3 separate regions of the Homo sapiens genome follow, and all the other regions are linked to region 3. The links come from fine-mapping of genetic effects on gene expression. A gene starts in region 3. Each other region holds a variant in brackets. All regions are shown on one strand. Distances are between the middles of the regions.

The links.
Region 1: its variant is fine-mapped to the expression of PTK2 in fibroblasts (GTEx, PIP above 0.99).
Region 2: its variant is fine-mapped to the expression of PTK2 in whole blood (TOPMed, PIP 0.95).

The regions. Positions count from the first base shown.
Region 1 is chr8:141,041,559-141,045,906 of GRCh38, reverse strand. No RefSeq gene overlaps it. Among named protein-coding and RNA genes, the nearest start is that of PTK2, 42 kb to the right of the region's middle. RefSeq lists an enhancer at 3,668-4,348. The variant A/G (reference allele first, on the strand shown) is at 2,493.
Region 2 is chr8:140,688,712-140,692,711 of GRCh38, reverse strand. The region is part of intron 29 of PTK2 (protein tyrosine kinase 2); the gene reads left to right. Among named protein-coding and RNA genes, the nearest start is that of MIR151A, 42 kb to the left of the region's middle. The variant C/G (reference allele first, on the strand shown) is at 1,513.
Region 3 is chr8:140,998,964-141,003,311 of GRCh38, reverse strand. It overlaps PTK2 (protein tyrosine kinase 2), which reads left to right and starts at 2,030. Exons shown (of 36, transcript NM_001352702.2): 1 at 2,030-2,187. RefSeq lists silencers at 1,596-2,015, 2,036-2,365.

The sequences.
Region 1 (4,348 bases), 43 kb before region 3:
GTAACATGTACTCGGCACTTTGTCACTCATTCTGCTCAAGTAATCTCATTGGCATCTCCTGGGTGTTGGCAAAATGATTCTCTCTGAGTTACACATAGGAGAATGAGGCCCAGAGAGTGTCATGACTGGCCACATATAAATTGGTAGAGCTGGGTTGGACCTAGGCAGCCTGACTCCAAGCCCGTAGGCATGGCCACCAGGTTTTGCCACCTCCTAGTGCGCCTGCAGAAAAGGTTCTGAAGTCCTCCTATCTGGGGCTGCATTTCTGAAAATGTCAGCTCTTGGTTTGTGGCTCTGAGCCACCCCTGCTAACAGCCCCCTCACTGATCTCTTTGCTGCCAGCTCCCCGCCCCTCAATTTCCGCCACACTGCCGCTGGAATCTCACCAAGCCACTCCTCGGTGTGGTCAGGGGCTCTCAACATGGAATCAGCCTGAGCTGCTTCTTCTTTTTCTTTGAGACAAGATCTCACTCTGTTGCCCAAGCTGGAATACAGTGGCGCGATCTCAGCTCACTACAACCTCCGCCTCCTAGGCTCAAGCGATCCTCCTGCCTCAGCCTCCTCAGTATCTGGGACCACAGGCACAGGCTACTATGCCAGGCTATTTTTCTTTTTTTGTATTTTGGTAGAGATGAGGTTTCATTATGGTGCCCAGGCTGGTCTCAAACTCCTGAACTCAAGCAATCTACCCACCTTGGCTTCCCAAAGTTCTGGGATTACAATCTGAGTTTTCTCTGTTGTTGTTGTTATTGTTTTTTGAGACAGAGTTTTGCTCTTGTTGCCCAGGCTGGAGTGCAGTGGCACGATCTTGGCTCACCATAACCTCCGCCTCCCGAGTTCAGGTGATTCTCCTGCTTCAGTCTCGTGAGTACCTGGGATTACAGGCATGCACCACCACGCCCAGCTAATTTTGTATTTTTAGTAGAGACGGGGTTTCTCCATGTTGGTCAGGCTGGTCACGAACTCCTGACCTCAGGTAATCCACCTGCCTCGGCCTCCCAAAGTGCCGGGATTACAGGCGTGAGCCACTGTGCCCGGCCACAACCCGAGCTTCTTAAGGCCTTCACGATCAAGCTCATTATTTATCCCCCATTATAATCACCACCTCCTCATGGCAACACACACATGCATGCCTGCACACCCTCATACACCTATGTGTATGCACACATAGACACGTGTGTGCATACGTGACTACGTGTTGTGTGTGCACATGTATAGGTGCAGGTGGGCACATGGGCACACACAACCATACACAGAAATGTTACATCCCTCTGACCAGAGTGAACCACCTCCTGTTTCCATGGAGCCTGCACTTCCCCACCCACTGCCTCGCTGTGGGCTCTCCCCGCACCTGTTGCCTGCTGGGTTCCTACCCAGCTAAAAAGATGAGGCAGACACTGCCCAGTGCCCTCCCAATATCCTTACTAAGCTCTGACTTTGTTCTGCCATGCTCAGGTCAAAAATCTCTTTTGCCGTAAGGAGTGGCCTTGGGGCCTAGCTCAAAAGCCCACCAACTCAGCCAGTGTGAGCCTGGCTGACTTTTTGCTTTTCAACCCTTACCCTTTCCTCCTTCCCTCCTGGGCTGTAAGCCCAAAGCCTAGAAATAGAGCTGCCATGTCGCAGCATGAGGACAAGCACCACGCTCTACAGAGGGTAGAGTGGGAAGCTGGAAGGAGCCGCATCCTTCACAGCCTTCTCGAGTGGCTGCTGCGGCCCTGGACTGCCTCCCTCCAGGCTTCTTGCTTTGTGAGAACAGTAAGTCTCTAATGGGCAAGCCGCTATGGATAGTTGCTGGCATATGTAGCTGGCTGAAATCCTAATTGGCAGAAAGACCAGTTCACAGGACACCTCCCCCAGTAAGCCTTCCTGGATTCCCCTGCCAGATTTATCTGGTGCTCTGTATTCTTATCACACATGGTGAATTATGTCATCATCGCAGTTAATGTACATTGTGACTCCAGATCATTAGATTCACCTGTCCTTCACTCACAATCAAATGTAAATTTCCTAGGACAGGTCCATCTCACTTGCCCAGCTATCCCACATACGTCTTAGCCTAGTGCCTGCCAAGATGTCTCTGTACAATGTTGAAGACAGAACAGAGGCATCACTCATGGAGCCCGGGTTCACGTCCTGGCCACCATGACCCAGCTCTGTGATGCTGAGTTACCTGTGTAAGCTGCTGTTTCTCCATCTATAAAACTACAACCATTCATCTCCTAGGTATTGCAATGTTCAAATGAGTTCATCCATATGAATAAGATTTGGAGACAGAAAAGCTGCACTGTACAAAATGGAAATTATCATCAACGTCACTGTCTGGTAAGGGCTGCTGAATCAGAGCCTTGTCATTCACTTAGGACCACAAATAGCAACACACACACACACACGATACACACACACAAACCACACACACAGGCATGGACAAATCTCTTAAGCCAAAGCAACTTGAACTTCCCTTGGAGGCCACCCAAACCAACCTTAACCACAAG[A/G]TAGTTCAAGCTTGATGACATGGTGCTGATTTGAGAACTAGTTGGACTTCTATATGTTGTTTTCTTTGGACCACATGTGGTGTCATCACTGTATATTTTAGCATGTGGAGTCCCTGCTCCCTCACACTGAGACACAGGGGAGGCCTTTATATGGCTTCACAAGTGAGAGAGCTGGACATAAAAAAAATCTTTCCAGCCAGGCATGGTGGCTCACCCCTGTAATCCCAGCACTTTGGGAGGCTGAGGCGGGTGGATCACGAGGTCAAGAGTTGGAGACCAGCTTGGCCAACATGGTGAAACCCAGTCTCTACTAAAAATACAAAAATTAGCGGGCATGGTGGTGTGCGCCTGTAATCCCAGCTACCGGGAGGCTGAGGCAAGAGAATTGCTTGAACCTGGGAGGAGGAGGTTGCAGTGAGCTGAGATTGAGCCACTGCACTCCAGCCTGGGAGACAGAGCAAGACGCAGTCTCAGAACAAAACAAAAAACAAAAGAAAACAAAAACCCTTCCAACCAAGGCTGTCTAACTTGAGGTTTGGAGAGACACCCTGGCCCCTCCCAGTGCCTGCAGCAAGCAGAAAGCCCCTACTCCAGGCCTGCAACCGGGCCTGGCAGGGGCAAGAAAACCCAGCCTGGCTCAGGGCTGGCTCGAGGTAGGCAACCAGGGGGCTGAACCCAGGGTCAGAGGGTCCCAGGCCTCTCTCCCTCATGGTTCAGAAACAGTACCCAGGTTGCTCGTTCATTCAACAGACATTGCATGAGCACCAACTGGGTGTCAGGCCCTGGGCTCAGCTCAGGGAGTACAGGCTAGGGAAGGAATAGAAAAGAGACAAACATCTTCTGGGCACCCTCCTTGGGCCGTGCACTGTATTGGATAATTTCAAGAATTTCAGGCCGGGCGCGGTGGCTCACGCCTGTAATCCCAGCACTTTGGGAGGCCGAGGCGAGCAGATCACAAAGTCAGGAGATTGAGACCATCCTGGCTAACACAATGAAACCCTGTCTCTACTAAAAATACAAAAAATTAGCCCGGCGTGGTGGTGGGCGACTGTAGTCCCAGCTACTTGGGAGGCTGAGGCAGGAGAATGGCGTGAGCCCGGGAAGCAGAGCTTGCAGTGAGCCAAGATCACGCCACTGCAATCCAGCCTGGGTGACAGAGAGAGACTCCGTCTCAAAAACACAAGAACAAAAAAAAGAATTTCATTCAATTCCTGCACTGTAATCCCAGCTACTCGGGAGGCTACCCTTTGAGGCATTTGCTTATTTTAAATAGGTGTGAACAACTTTACCGGCTTAAGATACAAATAACATCGATTTTAAATATTAAAATTACTCTTACTGGAGCCTCCCAGATCAGCAGGAAGGCCACCCTATCTCTCTCTGTCTTTCTCTTTCTCTGTTTCTCTCTCTCTTCCCTTCCTTCCTGCCTTCCTCTCTCTCTCACTTTCCCTCCTTCTTGCCTCCTGTTTAGAGAGAGGAGAAGCTCAGAGCGGCCTTTTTGTGGGCCTGGGTTTCGCCTGCCAATGCTCTGCCACACACCTACCATATGGTCGGGTGCCACCCTTGCTCAGAGGTGTGATCCTGCACATCTGGCCCGGCAGCAGCTTCTTGTGAATGCGGTTGGGGGTTGGGCAAAGAAGGTCATCCCCAGGGCCACAGCCATACCACAGGGCTGGGCTCGCTCCCTTTAACAATGAGGGTTAGCCTGAGGCCCTGCACAGACCACAGTTACTCTTCAGGGCATGTAACTCAGCACCATACACCTTGCCAGGGTGAGTAGGAGTCAGGCCCCACCTCTCTCCACATCCACTTTGTTCCTCTCATGCCCTGACATGCTCATTAGCAGGAAATCCAAC
Region 2 (4,000 bases), 310 kb after region 3:
TTGAAGTTTTCTAGAGCCATACCCACATGAAAGTAGAGACTGTAGCTAAGCCGAACTGTTTTTTTTTTTTGGCTTGTTTGTTTTTGTTTGTTTTGAGACGAAGTCTTACTCTTGTCCCCCAGGCTGGAGTGAAATGGCGCAATCTTGGCACACTGCAACCTCCGCCTCCCGGGTTTAAGCGATTCTCCTGCTTCAGCCTCCCGACTAGCTGGGACTGCAGGTGCCTGCCACCATGCCCGGCTAATTTTTGTATTTTTAGTAGAGATGGGGTTTCACCATGTTGGCCAGGCTGGTCTTGAACTCCTGACCTCAGGTGATCCACCCACCTCGGCCTCCCATAGTGCTGGGATTACAGGTGTTAGCCACTGCACCTGGCTGAGAATCTATTCTTTCTGATTGGCTGTCTTTGGCTGTATTGCTCTTCAGTTCCCAATAGGCACTCATCTTTCATTCAGGAGGTCCGTGTATGCTCTATGAAAAGAAAAAGCTCAAGTATTTATTTCATTCACAGAACACAAGTAGATTTTATATGGATAAGCCTTTCTCATTTTAAAATTAAAATCCTGTCTTTAGGAAAATACCACATTAGGGAATTATGCATTAAAGAAAGTCATTTCATGAAATGTATATGGAAATAAAAATAGATTAATTCATGTAAACACATGAAACAATACCTTATTCTATAGGCAAAAATATGAGTTGCATTTTTTGTTTAAGTAAAACAGTAAATATTTCCTGCCTGTAGAAGGTTCTTATTATCTGTTGACTGATTGAAGCCCACCTCCACTGTTTAAGAGCTGTGTTACCCCAAGCAACTAAATCTTTCTAAGTCAAGTTCCTCGTCTATAACATATCTCTTGTGCCTTGGATATTAATTGAAGCATTCCTTCAGCAAATATTTACTACACATCTATGTGCACAATGCTGCCAGGCACTTCTTTCATTCTGATAATGACTGACTGAGGTATTATTCTGCCTATTTTACAGGTGAGGAACTGGGCCTAGAGAGGTTATATGCCTTGTCCAAAGAGGCATGGACAATCAGTTCACTAGAAAAATGCACAGGGCATTCATTTCCTCCACCTGTTTGTCCGGTGTTCTAGCAGGTAACAGAGACGCAGCGGTGAGGCAGACAGCTTCATAGCCTCTGTCTTCATGGAACTTAGCATCTCATGATAAGAAACAAAAATGGTCAACTATTTGGGGAAAGGGAGGAGGAGAGGAGCAAATTACAACAATATATTATACAGTATTTTCTTTATGAATTGGTTGAGAGTTTTAAAATGATAATACAGTGGTGTTAGGGTACAGTGAGAGAAATGCTATCACATATTGCTACATAGATGAAAATCAGGACAGCCTTGAGCAGTTTGGAAACTTATACCAAGATTTTTCAAATGTTCAAACTCTTTGACTTAGTAATTCCTTTCTTAGAAATCTGCTCCAGAGACAGGAAGATCACTTGAGCACAGGAGTTTAAGACCAGCCTGGATAACATAGTGAGACCCCCCA[C/G]CCCCAACCATCTCTAAAAGAAGAAGAAAAGAAATCTGTCCCAGGGAAATAATCAGGGACTTAGTCAAAGATTTGTATACAAAGGTGTTCATCTACAGCCTATTTATGAGGGATTTTGAAAATGACCCTAATATCCAACAATAAAAGAACTATTTATTTTAACTCTTGTGTGGCACCAACTTAGTACTTTGCAAATATTAACTCATTTCATCCTCCTAACAATCCTATGTGTTGGTTACAATTACTGTTCCATTTTAGAAATGAAGAAATTGAGGCCCAGGTCACACAGCTTGTAAGGACTGGATCCTCATTAGAACCCAGGCCACCTGGTGCCACAGCTCCCACCCTTCACTACCATTGTCTATTTTATGATGATAATCATGCAGTGGAACGTTGTGCAGCCTTAAACATTGTTTTGTCAGTTTGCCCTATATAAATGTTATGTGAAGGCTGTAGAATCATATGTTGTGGTTCCATGTTTGTAAACATACATTTACACCACAGTATTAACTAATGATAATTACTTTTACATTTTAATTACTCCATAATAACTAATGATAATTACTTCCAAATGGTAAGGTTGAGTGATTTGTAATTTTTTCATCTATTTTTGCAGTATCTTAATTTTTCTACAGTAAGTGCATGTTTCTTTTGTTAGATTATTGACAAATGAGGTATACAATATTTTAAAATAACCAAAATCATGTAACTATTAAATGACCACATCGTAAGTTGGGCCTGGTGGGTCTTTTGTTTTCTTAGACTATAGCTCTAACTGGGCGTGGTGGCGTGCATGTATAGTCCCAGCTACTCCAGAAACTGAGGCGGATGATTGCTTGAGGCCAGGAGTTCGAGGCTGTAATGCACTATGATTGTGCCTGTGAATAGTCGCTGCACTCTGACCTGGGCGGCAGATCAAGACCCTGTCTCTTAAAAATAGAAACTGTTGGCCTGGCGCGGTGGCTCACGCCTGTAATCCCAGCACTTTGGGAGGCCGAGGCGGGCAGATCATGAGGTCAGGTGATCGAGACCATCCTGGCTAACCCAGTGAAACCCCATCTCTACTGAAAATACAAAAAATTAGCCGGGCGTGGTGGCGGACGCCTGTAGTCCCAGCTACTCAGAAGGCTGAGGCAGGAGAATGGCATGAACCCGGGAGGCAGAGCTTGCAGTGAGCTGAGGTCATGCCACTGCACTCCAGCCTGGGAGACAGAGGGAGACTCCATCTCAAAAAAATAAATAAATAAAAAATGAAAATAAAAACTTGTCCTTTCTGCTACAGTAGAGTCAAACCTAATCACCTCCACTCTCTGTTTAGAGCCCTTCAACAGAACCCCTAAGCAGAACCAGCTCCCAGCTGGTCCCTCAAGTGAATGGGCAGAAGAGGAAAGGATAGTTTCAGAGTTTTTTAAAGTTACAAGAATGGTACAAAGAATTCCCATGTTCCCTTTACCTAGAGTCTCCAGTTGTTAACATTTGACCTCATTTGCTTTGCATATTTGTACATACCATTTTTTCTGAACCATTTGGAAGTAAATACCAGATATCCTGCTTTTTAACTCTTAAATAGTTCAATGTGAATTTCCTAAAAATAAGGATGTTCTCTTAAATAACCATAGCTGAGTTAACCAATGTCAGGAAATTAACAATAATACAATACTGTTAGCTAATCAATGGACTATTCATATTTTACCAGTTGTCCACAGAATGCCCTTTCTAGAAAAAAGTCCTGGATCATGAGTTATATTTAGTTATCACATCTCTTGAGTTTCCTTTAAGCTTGAACAGTTCCTGGGTCTTCCCGAAATCTTTCCTGACCTTGATATTTACATTGAGTAATGTTCTGTGAATTGTCAACCTGGAGTCTCGTCTTCTCAGGTACTTTTTCTCAAAGTCCATTGTGTTTTGGAATATTTTTTCTTAAGCATATCTGGGATGTTTGGGCCCCACAAAGCTGCCTCTTCATTCAGGCAGTGGCAGAACCTCAGCATTCCATGGAATAGGATCTGTGAGTTCTGCTACATGGAATAGGACCTCCCCAGTGAGTTCCCCTTCAGTTGCCAGTTGGAATCAATGTATTACGTGTGTTTGCTTGGTTTCCTTTCTGTCTATTCATGTCTATCTTACCTGTCAGAGAAGATTCTATCCTAGAAGTCAGGAACTACCTACCTCTGAATTTTCTCTTGAGCTATATTTCACACCCAGCCACAGCTGTCTATATCTAATGGGATAGTCCTCTCTGGTAAAAAACACAGCATACTTTCTGCCATAGTCGCCAACTGCATGCCTCTAGGTTTGACTTCCCCTGTATGGGCATTAGTTATATATATCACATCTGCAGTAAGAATTCATTTTTTAAATTATTGTTCCTTGATATTATAGTACATATAAACACAGTACAATGTTTTAAGTTATGCTCTTCAGAGTTCAGAAATATTTATTCTGAACTTTTCTGGTTTACTCATTGAGAGAGTTCTAACAGAGCAGA
Region 3 (4,348 bases):
TTAAGGGGGGAAAATGAAAGCAGCATGGCCTCTTGAGGCCTAGGCTTGGAATTTGTACAATGTCACTTGTGACACATCCCATTGGTCAAAGCAAGTTACAAGATCCCATCCACATTCAAGGGGTGAATAAATTCCACCTCTTCTTGGGAAAAGTGTCAAAGAATTGATGGCCATTTTTAGTCTACTATGCTAAGTGCAGCCCCTTCCCCCAAAGTTATCCTTAATGCAGTCCCTTTGTGCCTCCACTCTCCTCTTTTAATTCCCATGCTTTTCTTATCCTTTTAATAATAAGCTCTCACTTCACATCACCCAAAGCTTCGTTCATTCACTTGACAAATACTTACTGTGTGCCAGGACCTATTAGTGAACAAAACAAAGCCCGTGCTCTAATGAATCTAAGATTCTAGTGGAGAGAGCGGACAATCAAGAAATAAACAAGAACACAGTGTTGGGCTATGGTGAACAATAGGTGCTTTGGAGAACAACAGAGCAGACTAAGTGCGGACTGTGTGTGAGGATAGCAGGGCAGTGGGTGGTTCCTATTATATGAAGTGGTCGGCTGTATCAATGAGGTGATATATAAGCAGGGTATTGAACGAAGTGAGGAGCAAGAAGTTCCAGGCAGAGCAAATAGCACGCGCAAAGGCCTGAGGCTGGCATGGAGAGGCAATTCCTTACAATTTCATATGTAGTAAAAAGTAACAAAACCCAGAAAAACACCAACCTTAATACATCTCATTAAAGAACAATACAACCCAAACATTTAAATATGGTAAAATCTTGATAAGCAAAAGCTTTTTATTTTACTTCATTTTTACTTTTATAAAAGCTCCTAATGCAATGACGTGTGTCACCTCTCTGGGCTTCAGGGTGTTCACCTTTCAAAAGGCCTCGGTGCCTGTCTGTCCTGCTTCCTGGCTTGTGGTTAGCATCAAAATGACACCATAAAAATGAAAGTTGCAGCCTTGAGGGTTCTTCTGGTTTCATTTCCGACCACAAGGTTGCCAGAGTGACTTTTTTTTTTTTTTAAATAACACAAATCAGTTATCACTTCCTGCTTAAAGCCCTCCAAAGGTTCCCTGTTGCCTAAAGAATAAACTCCAGGCACCTAAGCAAGCCCCACGCAGCCGTCTGCATTTTTCAATCCCTCCAACCTCGCCTTTTGCTATTTCCCCCACCCCACCTACGGCACGTTCCGGTCATAACCAACTAGCTCCTCGCTGAAACTGGCTCACACCGCGGAAGCCCGGGTCGGTGTCGGGGCGAGCCTTCCCTCCTTTTCCTGGAGCCCGTCTCAGGTCTGTAGCCCTCGGGAGGGATTGCAGGGCTCGTTCCCTGCTGGCGTTCATTTAGGTAACCTGTCTACCTCCAGTGGACTTCTAAGTCCCTTTCATGATTTTTCATCTTCCAAAATCAAATAATGGCCCAGCCCAACTTAGCTATAATGCCATGAAAAGAATCTCTGAGCCTCAGTTTCCTTGTCTGCAAAAAGGGCCCAGGAACCGCTCGTTAGGGTCGGTGTGGTGCCTGGAGAGTGCACTGCAAGGCCCGGGGCCCGCAGCGGGTGCCCGACAGCGGGCGTCCAACTCTGGGGGCGGGGCCGCAGGGCCGCTCAGGAGGGAGGTTCTCCAGAGGGGACCCCTTCGGGATTTGGGGGCAGGGAAGGAGATGGGGAGGACTTTCCCGAAGTCCGTCTAATCCCGCTGGCGGAGAGCGAGGCAGGTGGGACCCCAGGATGTCCGCTCGGCGGGGCGACCCCGGCCACCCCCGAGACCAGGGCTTTCCTCGTCCGGCCGCCACGCCCGCGCGCAGCCTCGGGCCACCCCGAAACCCCGGCGCGGTCACTACAGGACAAATTACGCGAGCAGAGCCTAGCGGCGCGCTGGGCATGCGCGGGGGCGGCGCGCATGCCCAGTCCCCCCGAGAGGCGGGAACTCCGGACTGAGACCGGGTCGGGCGTGCGCTGCCGAGAGAGGACGCGCGCCTCAGCCGGCTGCCGCGCACGCGCGCGGGCCCGCGCCGACGCAGCACGGCCTCGAGGGCGCGAGCCCGCGCCGCCGCCGCCGCCGCCGGTCCCGGACCACTGTGAGCCCGCGGCGTGAGGCGTGGGAGGAAGCGCGGCTGCTGTCGCCCAGCGCCGCCCCGTCGTCGTCTGCCTTCGCTTCACGGCGCCGAGCCGCGGTCCGAGTGAGTGCGGGGCGCCGGGCGCGGGGCGCGGGTCGGGGGCTGGGCGGGCTCCTTCTGTGCAGCGGTCGTGGGCTGGGCCGCGGCCCTGAGGGCGGAGGGGCAGAGCGGGGCCGCCCAACCAGTCCCGGGGCGGATGCGGCGGAGACCGGCCCCTCCCGCGCCCCCGGCCCGGGTTCTGGGAGGAGGGGAGGCCGGTGGCCGTGAGGAGGTTGGGGGCCCTCGCGGAGGCCGAGAGGCTTAAGGAGGTCAGGGGGCGCGCTGGGAGGCGGGGGTTCGGGGCGCTGGGTGGTCGGGAGGCTTGGGGAAGACTGGGAGGCTGAGGGACGTGGGGAGGCCGGGAGCTCGAGGAGGTCGGGGGTTTTGGGGGCGCGCGGGGAGGCCAAGGGGTTCGGGGAAGACAGAAAGGCTGGGGGACGTGGGGAGTCCGGGAGACGTGAGGAGGAAGGGGGGGGCGGCTTTCGAAAAGGCCGGGCGCGCGGAGAGGCCGAGGGGCCTGAGGAAGACGAGGAGGCCGGGGCTCTGGGGGCGCGCAGGGCGGACAGAGGCGCGGGGAGGACGGGCCGGCCTCCGCCGGAGCGGACCCAATGCCTGAAAAACAAAAGGGGAGAGGCAGGAGGAGGAAGAGGGAAATCGCAGGGACGTCGGCAGGGTTCGCCCGGACGCGAGAGGGAGGCTCGCGACGGCCCGACCTCCGTCCCCCGGGCGCGGCCTCGCGGGCAGCCAAGGGTGGGCTCCGAGCGGCCTGCCGGTGCCCGAGCCCCAAGCCCGCCGTGTCCCCGAACGCAAACCCTCAAGTTTGGTAGAGCCCCGTGGGCTTCTTGGCGGGAGCCCTGGAGCCCTCACTGAAGTCCTCACTGGAGTCATTGTGCTTCCCAAGTTTTCTCCTCTTCCCCGCCCCCAGCCCCCGACTCTGCCGCGGTGGCTTAGGCGCAACTGTTTGCCGAATTTCTCTCTGGGTTCCTTGTGTAGCGGCATCCTGTTCTTTCTTAGAAGAAGGGGTGTGTGTGTGTGTGTGTGTGTGTGTGTGTGTGTGTGTGAATTGGTTTCATTTAATTGCAGAATTTTGTAGCTAAATTCAGTGAGGGTAAAGTTTCTTTTTTTTTTTTTTTCCGAGTCATTTCAACAGTGTCTCATTCTTGCATAGTTAGCCTGCAGCTGGGTTTTTGGCAATGAGACTAAGATAATAGTAATATTGTAGTAATTATGGGAACTGGTTATACATTCAAGCTGAAAGCTGAAGGCAGTGCAAGAGTTTGGGGATTTGTATTTAAGACTTAACCATCGCTAGGATTTTTACTTAGAATGTAAACGTTTTCATGGCTGGAAAAACAGACCAGTACTATTTGAAATGAAATACCAGAGCCTCAACCTTAATATTTTATTTGGGAAACGGGTAATGAAAATGATGTCTTCGAGAGTTGAGCACTCCGTCCCATATTTGAAAACTTATGAGCAGTGCGATGCAAGCACACGGATGAACTAGTTACAAGACACATAAAAGTAAACTAGCATTCAACGTATTTTTGTTGGGGTACAGTATAGATAATATTTTCATCCAGTTATACTAGCCAATTAATTAGAAAAGCCCTATGATATTCAAACAAGGAACATTTTAAGGATGTTTGTGTCCCAATATCTTTGTGTTTTGTATTTGTGGTTATCCTTGGTGGGGAAAAACAGGCTGAACCTACCATCATTTTGAACCTTCTTGTTTATTAAACTGCAGAAACAACAAGATCAATATTACAAGGTTTTCCTTTAAAGAATTTCAGGTCACTATCAAATAATCTAGTTTAATAATGAACACAGGCACAGATTATTTAAAACACATGCTTCCTTTATAAGGGAGCCGACAATCACCTAAGACTTCAGTGTAGACGCTGATTAGAAGGACCCATACATCATTCAGTGGTGATGCATCAAGAAGCAAGTCATTGGTTAAATAAAGACATGGAAATCAAAACTCCATGTTTACGGTTTGGGGCAAAGAATACTGGGGCAAACTCTGAGAGGAGATGGGACTTAAAAAGCCTTATTATTTGAGGCTGGAAGCCCATTGAAAGTGAATAATGTTAGATTAGGAGTGAAGTTCCATGAATCCAGCAGTGAAATTGTGAGGAGGCAGTGAGGATCATTAAAACGTTTTATACTAAAATGTTTT